Homo sapiens: one gene and its partners. The protein of the gene in region 3 interacts with the protein of the main gene of each other region in a pairwise test. Each region holds a gene or a part of one and is shown on either strand. Other genes may lie near its edges.

What was found.
Region 1: the proteins of GAS7 (region 3) and PKNOX1 interact in a two-hybrid assay, tested with the Homo sapiens proteins (one large-scale study listed by BioGRID and IntAct).
Region 2: the proteins of GAS7 (region 3) and MYBPC2 interact in a two-hybrid assay, tested with the Homo sapiens proteins (one large-scale study listed by BioGRID and IntAct).

Annotation. Positions count from the first base shown.
Region 1 is NC_000021.9:42,977,562-42,981,061, reverse strand, and holds part of PKNOX1 (homeobox protein PKNOX1), read right to left. Parts: intron 1-3,500. UniProt on the Homo sapiens protein: Activates transcription in the presence of PBX1A and HOXA1.
Region 2 is NC_000019.10:50,439,392-50,442,891, reverse strand, and holds part of MYBPC2 (myosin-binding protein C, fast-type), read right to left. Parts: intron 2,013-3,500; coding exon 1,816-2,012; intron 712-1,815; coding exon 579-711; intron 1-578. UniProt on the Homo sapiens protein: Thick filament-associated protein located in the crossbridge region of vertebrate striated muscle a bands. In vitro it binds MHC, F-actin and native thin filaments, and modifies the activity of actin-activated myosin ATPase.
Region 3 is NC_000017.11:9,919,107-9,922,606, forward strand, and holds part of GAS7 (growth arrest-specific protein 7), read right to left. Parts: intron 600-3,500; coding exon 520-599; intron 1-519. UniProt on the Homo sapiens protein: May play a role in promoting maturation and morphological differentiation of cerebellar neurons.

The DNA.
Region 1 (3,500 bases), on a different chromosome or scaffold from region 3:
CCTCCAAGGACACACACTGTTAGGCTTTGGGTTCCCCTATCTGTGCCGTTTTTATTTCCTTGTCTCTTTTGTCATCAATATAATCATTTGAGGAAGTAAAGAAAGGACACCATATATTCCTACAAATGGATAGGCTGAGAGTAAATCAACTTGGTATTTGTGAACATGAATGATAAAAGGCAAAAACTTCTAGCTGAAATGTAGCACTCCTTCAATTACAAAGGCAGACAATAAGCCCTGGAGTTTTAGCAGGAACAGCAACAGGTATTTTCCAAAGCATTAGAGTGTCACAAAAAATCTCGTCACTACTCCCAAATGAATTACCAGAGCCACAGCTCAATCCGGTTACTAAGCTAATAAATGGGACTATCACCAATTTGGTTCAATACAGTATTTTAATAACTGTATTTCAAAATAATTTGTTCTCTTCTTCATCTATTTATTTCCTTTAAAGTGCTGTTAAGAGGCCCCCAGAGGCCAAGCAAACGTGAAAATTTAAGACGCCCCCTCTCCCACCAGAGTCTATACTTTGCATCACTTTAGCAGTTTCAGGCTGTCCTTCTAAACAGTTTCAGACACTTTTAACAATTTGCAACAAAAGTGTAAGCCGCAAATAGGATGTTACTTCTCATAAGTAGCACCTTTCTATTTCTGCTATTTACAAGTAGTATTTTTTTTTCTCTTTTTTCGGACATGGAGTCTTGCTCTGTCGCCCAGCCTGAAGTGCACTGGAGCGATCTCAGCTCACTGCAACCTCCACCTCCTGGTTCAAGTGATTCTCCTGCCTCAGCCTCCCGAGTAGCTGGGGATACAGGCTCCTGCCACCACACCCAGCTAATTTTGCATTTTTAGTAGAGACAGGGGTTGCCCCATCTTGGCCAGGCTGGTCTCAAACTCCTGACCTCAGGCAATCCACCCACCTCGGCCTCCCAAAGCGCTAGGATTACAGGTGTGAGCCACCGCACCTGGCCTCACAAGTAGTACTTTTCTAAAGTTACTGCCAGAGAAACGTTAACTACATATAGAGTACAGGAATCCCAACAAAATGCATTGTACTCAGTATCATTACCACAGAACCTGCTGGCACTTAGATCATAAGCGCAGAAGGTTAATCTTTGAAACAAGTCATACTTCACTGACCATGTTTCATCAATTCTAAGGCACACTTTTAAATGTCTGAAGTGAAAAGCATCCTTCACTGATGGGGTAAGAAAGCAGCGTGCCAGAAGGCACTGGGAGCATCTGTAGTGGTATAACACACTGCTGCATTTTAGATTCAACAGACTATAAGCACCTCATTTTTCTTTTTTCTTTTTTTCTGAGATGGAGTCTCGCTGTGTCACCCAGGCTGGAGTGCAGTGGCGCGATCTCGGCTCACTGCAAGCTCCGCCCCCTGGGTTCACGCCATTCTCCTGCCTTAGCCTCCCAAGTGGCTGAGAATACAGGTGCCCGCCACTACGCCCAGCTAATTCTTTGTATATTTAGTAGAGACGGGGTTTCACAGTGTTAGCCAGGATGGTCTCGATCTCCTGACCTCGTGATCCACCCGCCTCGGCCTCCCAAAGTGCTGGGATTACAGGCGTCAGCCACTGCGCCTGGCTATAAGCACCTCATTTTACCTTTTATTGTGTTTTGCTTTATTGCACTCAGCAGGTACTATGTTTTTCACAAGTTGAAGATCTGTGGCAACCCTGTATGAAGAAAGCAAGCCTATTGGTGCCAATTTTCCAAAAACAGGAGCTCACTTTGTGTCTGTGTTACATTTTGGTAATTCTTCACTATTTCAAACTTTGTCATTATTATGTCTGTTACGGGGATCTGTGATCAGTGATCTTTGATGTTCAGGTCAGGAACAGTGATTCATATGGGTAATCCCAACACTTCGGAAGGACGAGGCAGGAAGGCGGCTTGAAAGGATTCACCATTCTGGAAAGGAACTTAAGAGACAGCCGAGGCAACATAATGAGACCTCACTTCTACAAAACTTTTTCAAAATTAGCTGGGCATGCTGGCACATCCCTGTAGTCCCAGTTACTCAGGGGGCTGAGGTGGGAGAACCACTTTAGCCCAAGAGGTCAAGAGTGCAGTGAGCTATGATCTCACCACTGCATCCCAACCTGAGCAACAGAATGAGACCCTGTCTCTCAAAAACATAGCCAAGGCCAGGAACAGTGGATCATGCCTGAGGCTGAGGCAGGAGGACCACTTGAGGCCAGGAGTTTGAGACCTGCCTGGATAACATAGGGAGACTTCATCTCTTTAAAAAAAAACAAAAAAGGGCTGGGTGCGGTGGCTCATGCCTGTAATCCCAGTACTCTGGGAGGCCAAGGTGGGTGGATTATTTGAGGTCAGGAGTTCAAGACCAGCCTGGCCAATACGGCGAAACCCTGTCTCTACTAAAAATACAAAAATTAGCCGGGCGTGGTGGCTCACGTCTGTAGTCCCAACTACTTGGTAGGCTGAGGCAAGAGAATCACTTGAACCCGGGAGGCAGAGGTTGCAGTGAGCCAAGATCGCGCCACTGCACTCTAGCCTGGGCGACAGAGCGACTCCATCTCAAAAAAAAAAAAAAAAAGAAAAGAAAAGAAAAAAACAAGTTAGCCAAGTTGTAAATGCAAAGCAGAAGTTTCTTTCCAATTTTTGAAATTAAAAAAATACATACACAAATTTTTGAAATTTTAAATCACCTCTCAGAACAAAGGAAAACTTAAAGGCAATTAAAAAGTGCTACTCCAGTGAACACATGAATAAGAAAATGGCCAGGTCCGTTGGCTCACACCTGTAATCCCAACACTTTGGGAGGCCAAGGCGGGCGGATCACTTGAGGTCAGGAGTTCGAGACCAGCCTGGTCAACATGGTGAAACCTTACCTCTACTAATAATACAAAAATTAGCTGGACACATGCTGCACACCTGTTATCCCAGCTACTCGGGAGGTTGAGGCAAGAGAATTGCTTGCACCCAGGAGGCAGAGGTTGCAGTGAGCCATGATCATACCACTGCACTCCAACCTGGGCAATAGTCTCAAAAAAAGAGGGAGGGAGGGAAAGAAAGTGAAACAGCCTTATTGGTGATATGTGGAAAGTATGAGTGGTCTGATTAGATCAAACCAGCCACAACATTCCCTTAAACTGAAGCCTAATCGAGAACCAGGCCCAAGTTTTCTTCAATTCTATGAAGGCTGAGAGAGGTGAGGAAGATGCAGAAGAAAAGTTGGAGCCAGGCACGGCAGCTCACCCCTGTAATCCCAGCACTTTGAGAGGCTGAGGCAGGTGGATCACCTGAGGTCAGAAGTCCCAGCCTAGCTAACATTTAGTAGAGCCCGTCTCTACTAAAAATACAAAAAATTAGCTGTATGTGGTGGCAGCTGCCTGTACTCCCAGCTACTACGGAGGCTGAGGCAGGAGAATCGCTTGAACCCGGGAGGTGGAGGTTGCAGTGAGCCGAGATCACGCCATTGCTCTCCAGCTTGGGCAACAAGAGTGAAAATCCATCTCAAA
Region 2 (3,500 bases), on a different chromosome or scaffold from region 3:
GCAGGAGAATCTCTTGAACCTGGGAGGCAGAGGTTGCAGTGAACTGAGATCATGCCATTGCACTCCAGCCTGGGCAACAAGAGCGAAACTCTGTCTCAAAACAAAATTAGGTAATTAATTTAAAAAAGGTTGTCTTGTGATGTGTTTGTTGTTGTTGTTGTTAACAGGGTCTCACTCTGTCGCCCAGGCTGGAGTGCAGTGGCGAGATCTCAGCTCACCGCAACCGCAACCTCTTGCCTCCTGGGTTCAAGCGATCCTCCTGCCTCAGCCTCCCAAGTAGCTGGGATTACAGGCACTACAGACATGTGCCACCACACCCGGCTAATTTTTTGTATTTTTAGTAGAAATGGGGTTTCACCATGTTAGCCAGGCTGGTCTCGAACCCCTGACCTTAGGTGATCCACCCGCCTCGGCCTCCCAAAGTGCTAGGATTACAGGCGTGAGCCACTGTGCCCGGCCTGTACTCTTCATATAGGGGTGAATATGCCCTTTCTGGTTAAGAGTGATAGGCCTTGTCTCCGGGCGTTCTCTCTGGACGGGGATCTCCCCGGTGCAGGGACTGCCCACCCCACACATACTTGCTGCTTGGTTTGATCTCCTGGCCGTTCTTGAACCACTTGAGGGTCAGGTCTGGGTCGCTGATCTCTACCATCAACTTGATCTTGTTGCCTCTGTCCACTTGGTAGGCTGGATCCAGCTTCTTTGTGAATGCTGAAGATTGAGGCATGCAAAGGGGATGGAGGCGTGTGGTCCTCATTCCCCTGGTCATCCCCAGAGGCACCACATCTCCCTCCCCAGGCCCTGGGCTCTCCAAGGTCAAAGTGAGGAAGTCAGGGGGCCTCCTATGAACTTAGAGATCCTTGAGAACTTCTCTGGTGGTGATGCAGGGCAGGGGACCCCAAAGTGGGGCTTAGCCTGCAAGGGTTATCGGCTTCACCCAGGAAAGAAGTCAAGGGCAAGCCAGTGTTAGGTAGAAGAAAACAGCTTTATTTTTATTTATTTATTTTATTTTATTTTATTTTATTTTATTTTTTATTTTATTTTATTTTTTTGAGACAGAGTCTCACTCTGTTCCCCAGGCTGGAGTGCCACAGCGTAATCTCAGCTCACCACAACCTCTGCCTCCCTGGCTTAAGCGATTCTCCTGCCTCAGCCTCCCAAGTTGCTGGGATTACAGGTGCACACCACCATGCCCGGCTGACTTTTGTATTTTTAGTAGAGATGGGGTTTCACCATGTTAGCCAGGCTGGTCTCGAACTCCTGACGTCAGGTGATCTGCGCACCTCAGCCTCCCAAAGTGCTGAGATTACAGGCGTGAGCCACTGCACCCAGCCTGAAAACAGCTTTATTGAGGTGGCAGTGTTACAGCCCTCTGACTGCTCCTGCGGAACAGGGCTACCCCAGAGACAGAGAGCAACGGCTCAGGGCAGATCTGCAGTCAGATTGATACCCACTTTTAATTACCTAGAGATTAAGGAGCAGGTTATACAGAAATTGCTAGGAAAAGGGTGGTAACTTTTGGGTGGTCTGGTCATTGCCATGGAAAGGGGCAGTAACTCCTGGCTGTTGCCATGGCCATGGTAAACTGACATGGCACACTGGTGGGCATGTCTTATGGAAAGCTGCTTCCACCCTGTCCCTGTTTTAGCTAGTCCTCAATTTGGTCTGGTGTCCGAGGCCCACCGCTAGAGTTGGGTCTTGCCTCCTACCTCATTGGGACCTCGAAAAGATAGGTCCAGGGTCCAATCATTAGACACCCACAAGGCTAGGGGTCCCTTGTGTGCAGGGCCCAGCTCCCCCCAGACCAGGGCTGACCTGCACTCTTCTTGACCTCGACCTTAGCCTTTTTCAGCCGCTTCAGCATGCCCCGGAGGTCGGTGATGCCATACTGGAAGGCGATTTTCTCGTACTCGCTCTTCTTTGCCCCTTTCAGGAGCTCCCAAATCTCCGGGGGGATGCCTAGGTCATCGTCATCTTTCTTTTTCTTCTTCTTCTCCTCCTCCACCACCTCCCTGGCGGGTGGGGGAACGGACAGGGGCCATCAGGGAGTGAGGAAGGGAGGATGTCCCTCTGCCTTCTTCACTCATTGGCTCTGTGACTCACCCAAGCCACCTTCCCTTTAGGGGTCTTATTGTTTCCCGCCTGGTCCATTGCCCCAGCCTCCTCCTGGGGTCTTCTGACCTCTTCCCAGCACAGTCCCCACTGGGTTTTTTGGTTTTTTTTTTTTTTGAGACAGATTCTCACTCTGTCTCCCAGGCTGGAGTGCAGTGGCGTGATCTCGGCTCACTACAACCTCCACCTCCTGGGTTCAGGCGATTCTTCTGCCTCAGCCTCCCGAGTAGCTGGGACTACAGGCTCACGCCACCACCCCTGGCTAATTTTTGTATTTTAGTAGAAACAGGGTTTTGCCATGTTGGACAGGCTGGTCTCGAATTCCTGACCTTAAGTGATCCACCCGCCTCAGCCTCCCAAAGTGCTGGGATTACAGGTGTGAGCCACCATGCCTGGTCCGCAGAGTATTTCTTTTCATTTATTTATTTATTTATTTATTTATTTATTTATTTATTTTATTTCCACAGGTTATTGGGAAACAGGTGGTGTTTGGTTACATGAGTAAGCTGTTTGGTAGTGATTTGTGAGATTTTGGTACACCCATCACCCAAGCAGCATACATTGCACCCTATTTGTCCTCTTTTATCCTGTGGGGTATTTCTGACACCCACATCAGTGGTTCTCCCTTTCATGTTCAGAACTCTTCTGTGGCTCCCCACTGCCCTCAGGAGGAAGCCCCAGCCCTCCGCCTGGCCATCACACCCCAGCTACTTCCGTCACTCCCCCCAAAGTCACCTGAACCAAGCTGCTTGACTTTTGCTGAACACTTCAGGCTCTCTCCTGCTTCCCAGCCTTTGCACAAAATGTTTCCCTACCTTCATGACCTCTCCCTACCTTCTCTTCCTCCCAGACTCCTCTTCATCCTACAAGACCTAGCACCAAAGTTCCCTTCTCCCTGAGGCATTCCGTGTCCTACAAGACAGTGAGTTGCTCGTGCTCTGGGCTCTCACAGGCCCCGGTGGGACCCTCTCTAAAATCACACCAAATAGTCTCAGTCTGTATCTATGTCTGTTGGACAAGACCCATTTCCCAAGGCAATGAGTGATCTCACATCAGGGACCCAGTCAGACTGTTCTCTCTCCCTGGATCTCAGCCCAGGACCTAGTAGACGGGAGGCCTCAGAAGATGGTTGATGGGTGAGAGAGTGAGTGAATGCATGGATCTCAGCCCAGGACCTAGTAGACGGGAGGCCTCAGAAGATGGTTGATGGGTGAGAGAGTGAGTGAATGCATGGATCTCAGCCCAGGACCTAGTAGACGGGAGGCCTCAGAAGATGGTTGATGGGTGAGAGAGTGAGTGAATGCATGGATGGAGCTTGGGAGGGAAGGAAGGAAGGGAAAGGAACAAAGAGAGGATAGATGTGGAGGTGAATGTGGGGACATGAATAT
Region 3 (3,500 bases):
ATGCTGCCCCTTTACAAGAAATACTCAAGAGCATCATCGGCCCTGCCGCCTGTTGTTCACCCTTGGTGAGAGGCCTCCCCCACCCCACTGCCTAGCTCCATCCTCACCCATCCATCCACTTTGCAAGGATCTCCTACCAAGGACCTGCAACTCGTGTGTGTGCATGTGTGGGGCGGTCCTCTCTTCCTATAGCTTGGCTATTTTTCCTAAAGAGGCCCTTGTCCACTTAGTTGAGGAGAGTCCTCAGTTGACCCTGACCTCTCAGGGGACAGCCCAAGAAGGATGTAGCCATATCCAACCCAACCCTGCCCACATCCACACAGCTAGGAAGCGCTGGAGCAGAGATCTGAATCCACATAAGCTGGCTCACATTGAGGTTTCGACCCCAACACTGAAGTAGATTTGATGACCATCTCCAGGGTCACTCCACCCCATCATCCCCGCGCCCACCAACAACCACCAGGGGCTGCTCTGTGTCAGCCTCTGTACTGCCATGTCCACACATCCCTGCCCGCTTACCAATGTGGTGGTCACCATCTCTTCAAACCATTTGGACTGGGCCTGGTTGTAGAGATCCACACAGCGCATGAGGTCGTCTCCTGGAAAAAGACCACAGTCACCATCATGAAGCATCCTATCCTCACCATGACTCTGTGCCCCACCCTGAGCCCCACAGCCAAGCCTTCTCCTCCCCCTGGGGTCATGGTGGCCGCTGGAAAGCTGGAAAAGGGATGGCAGTAGGAAGAAGAAGAAAGCAGAGCCAGGGAAGGAAGGGGGCAACCCAGCCCCATGAGAACCCAGCTCAGGTGTCCCCCTGAAGCCTGACCCCAGATACCAAGGATTCAGGATGGTGGTTCTCATTTTGTGTGTGTGTGTGTGTGTGTGTGTGTGTGTGTGTGTGTGTGTGTGTCTAGGGTATTCCTAGGACCCCCAATCCTATCATGAGCCCAAGAAATGCTTCCCTCTCTAAAGATGGCAGTTTTATTTTACACTGGGGAGTCCAGATTGGTTAAAACATGTCACACACAATTTGGTGCTAAGAATAATTAAGGAAGATAAATTTGCAGATCATGTAAGTGTGTGTGTGTGTGTGTGTGCATGAACACACTGCAAGATGTCCTTCTGAAACACAAAAGAACGCATCTGTAGTCACAGTCTAAAACATGCACTGGAGGAGCACACCCCAGCTTCAGGAGAGTGGCTACCTTGGGAAACAGAGAAAGGGTGAGTGGGCAGGAATCAGCTCCTTCTATTGCATTTTATGTCATCACAGAAAGATCCGAGGCAAACATAACTATTCAATCTTTAGGACTACTCTATTACTTTGTTATCATATGTATGTTTAGAACATTTTGTAATTAGAAAGAAAACACACTGCGAAGTAATTGCAAACATTACTAAGCGTACCAGCACCTTGGAACCTTGCTACACAAATCACAGTCTGTGGGCCAGTGGCACTTGTATGCCCTGGGGTCGGCTAGAAATTCAGAAACCCAGGACAGATCCGAGACCTACTGAATCAGAGACTGCATGTTTATGAGACGCTCTGGTAATGTGTGTGCACGTGGCAGGCAGAGCAGCACAGCTCTCATGCACGGCTTTGTCTCAGCGTAGCTTCCTCATCCTCACAGGGCTCCAGCAAGAGGAAGGCATCATGGTGTTTGCTCACGATGGAAAAAGCTCATGAGTGAACCCCAAAGTGAAGTAATTTTCTCTAGTAATTCTAGAAGCAGAATGCTAGAGTAGAATTTAGTAATTCGAGTAGAGTCAAAGTGACTCCTATAGTATCATCATTGTGGCTCATAGGTACTCTGATAGGAAAGTCAAAGAGAACAGGGAAGGTTATGTCTCCAGGCCCCAGGCCTAGCTGCGAACCATACCCCTAGCTATGCCACACACCAGACGCGAGTGTGCCTTGAATAACAGAGCCCACACCAAGGCATTTATTCATTTTGTTCTTGGTCCAAGGCCAATGACTGGACCCTTGATCCCAAGAGGCACTGAACCGGAGAGAAGAAAGTGGATGCTGCACCGTAAAATGCATTTTTTTCTTTTTTTTTTTTTTTTTGAGACGGAGTCTGGCTCTGTCACCCAGGCTGGAGTGCAGTGGCGCAATCTCGGCTCACTGCAACCTCCACCTCCCGGGTTCAAGTGATTCTTCTGCCTCAGCCTCCCGAGTAGCTGGTACCACAGGCATGCGCCACCACCCCTGGCTAGTTTTTGTATTTTTAGTAGAGATGGGGTTTCACCATATCGGCCAGGCTAGTCTCGAACTCCTGACCTTGTGATCCGCCCGCCTCAGCCTCCGAAATGCAAATGCATTTCTAGCAAGAGCTCCTGCCTGGCCGAGGAGGAGGGCGGCGTGCTGCTCTGTACACTGTGAAACTCCCTGAGCCCTGTGTGTCAATGCTGATTTTGAGAAATTGCTTCAGGAACTTCCACAGCATTGGGAAACAGAGTAGGTGAAGGGGGCTGTACCTTCTCTCTATGGCAGCCCAAGAGCTTGAAATTGGAACTTTTTAGAACAGTATTGGTTAAGACCATGGATTGTGGGACAAGAATGCCTTTGTTGGCCAGGCGCGGTGCCTCACGCCTGTAATCCCAGCACTTTGGGAGGCCGAGGCGGGTGGATCACGAGGTCAGGACATCGAGACCATCCTGGCTAACACGGTGAAACCCCGTCTCTACTAAAAATATAAAAAATTAGCCAGGCGTGGTGGCAGGCGCCTGTAGTCCCAGCTACTCGGGAGGCTGAGGCAGGAGAATGGCATGAACCAGGGAGGCGGAGCTTGCAGTGAGCAGAGATCGCACCACTGCACTCCAGCCTGGGCGACAGAGCAAGACTCCATCTCAAAAAAAAAAAAAAAAAAGCCTTTGTTGTCATCCCAGCTCAACTACTTATTAGCTATGTAATCGTAGACAAGTCGGTTATCCTGCGCTTGCCTCCGTGTCTTCATCTGTAAAATGGAGATAACGATTGTACCTTTACCAAGTTGTTATGAGGAATAAATATGTCAAAATATGTAAAGCACTTAGAATAGAGATGGGCGTAGAGAGCCAAATATTAATATGGGCTATGGTGGTGATGAAGATGATGATGATGATGATGATGATGATGATGATCCCTGAGGATCTGATGTCTTTCCTTCTAGTAGCCTTGGAAAAGATGAGGAAGAGGGAGGAAAGGAACAGAAGGAAAGAACAGGTGGCATTTCCTGAGCAACAGGCTGTCCAGCAAAATGGCGACAAGCAGAGTCTCTGGAATGAGAGGAGACTGAATTGTGGCTTCGCCGCTCCACCACTGTGGACCTCATGGAAGGTTCTCATTTTCTCTGCCATCAGTCTTCTCATTTGTAAAGGGTATAAAAATACCTCCCTGCAGGGGGACTGTGCTGATCAAAAGAGACAATGCTCTAAAGCATGGAGGCTGGCCACAGCGAGTGCTCAGAAGAGGCGGTATTTTTCAGAGTTAGGTCTAAGGACTGTCACTTTCGTCACAA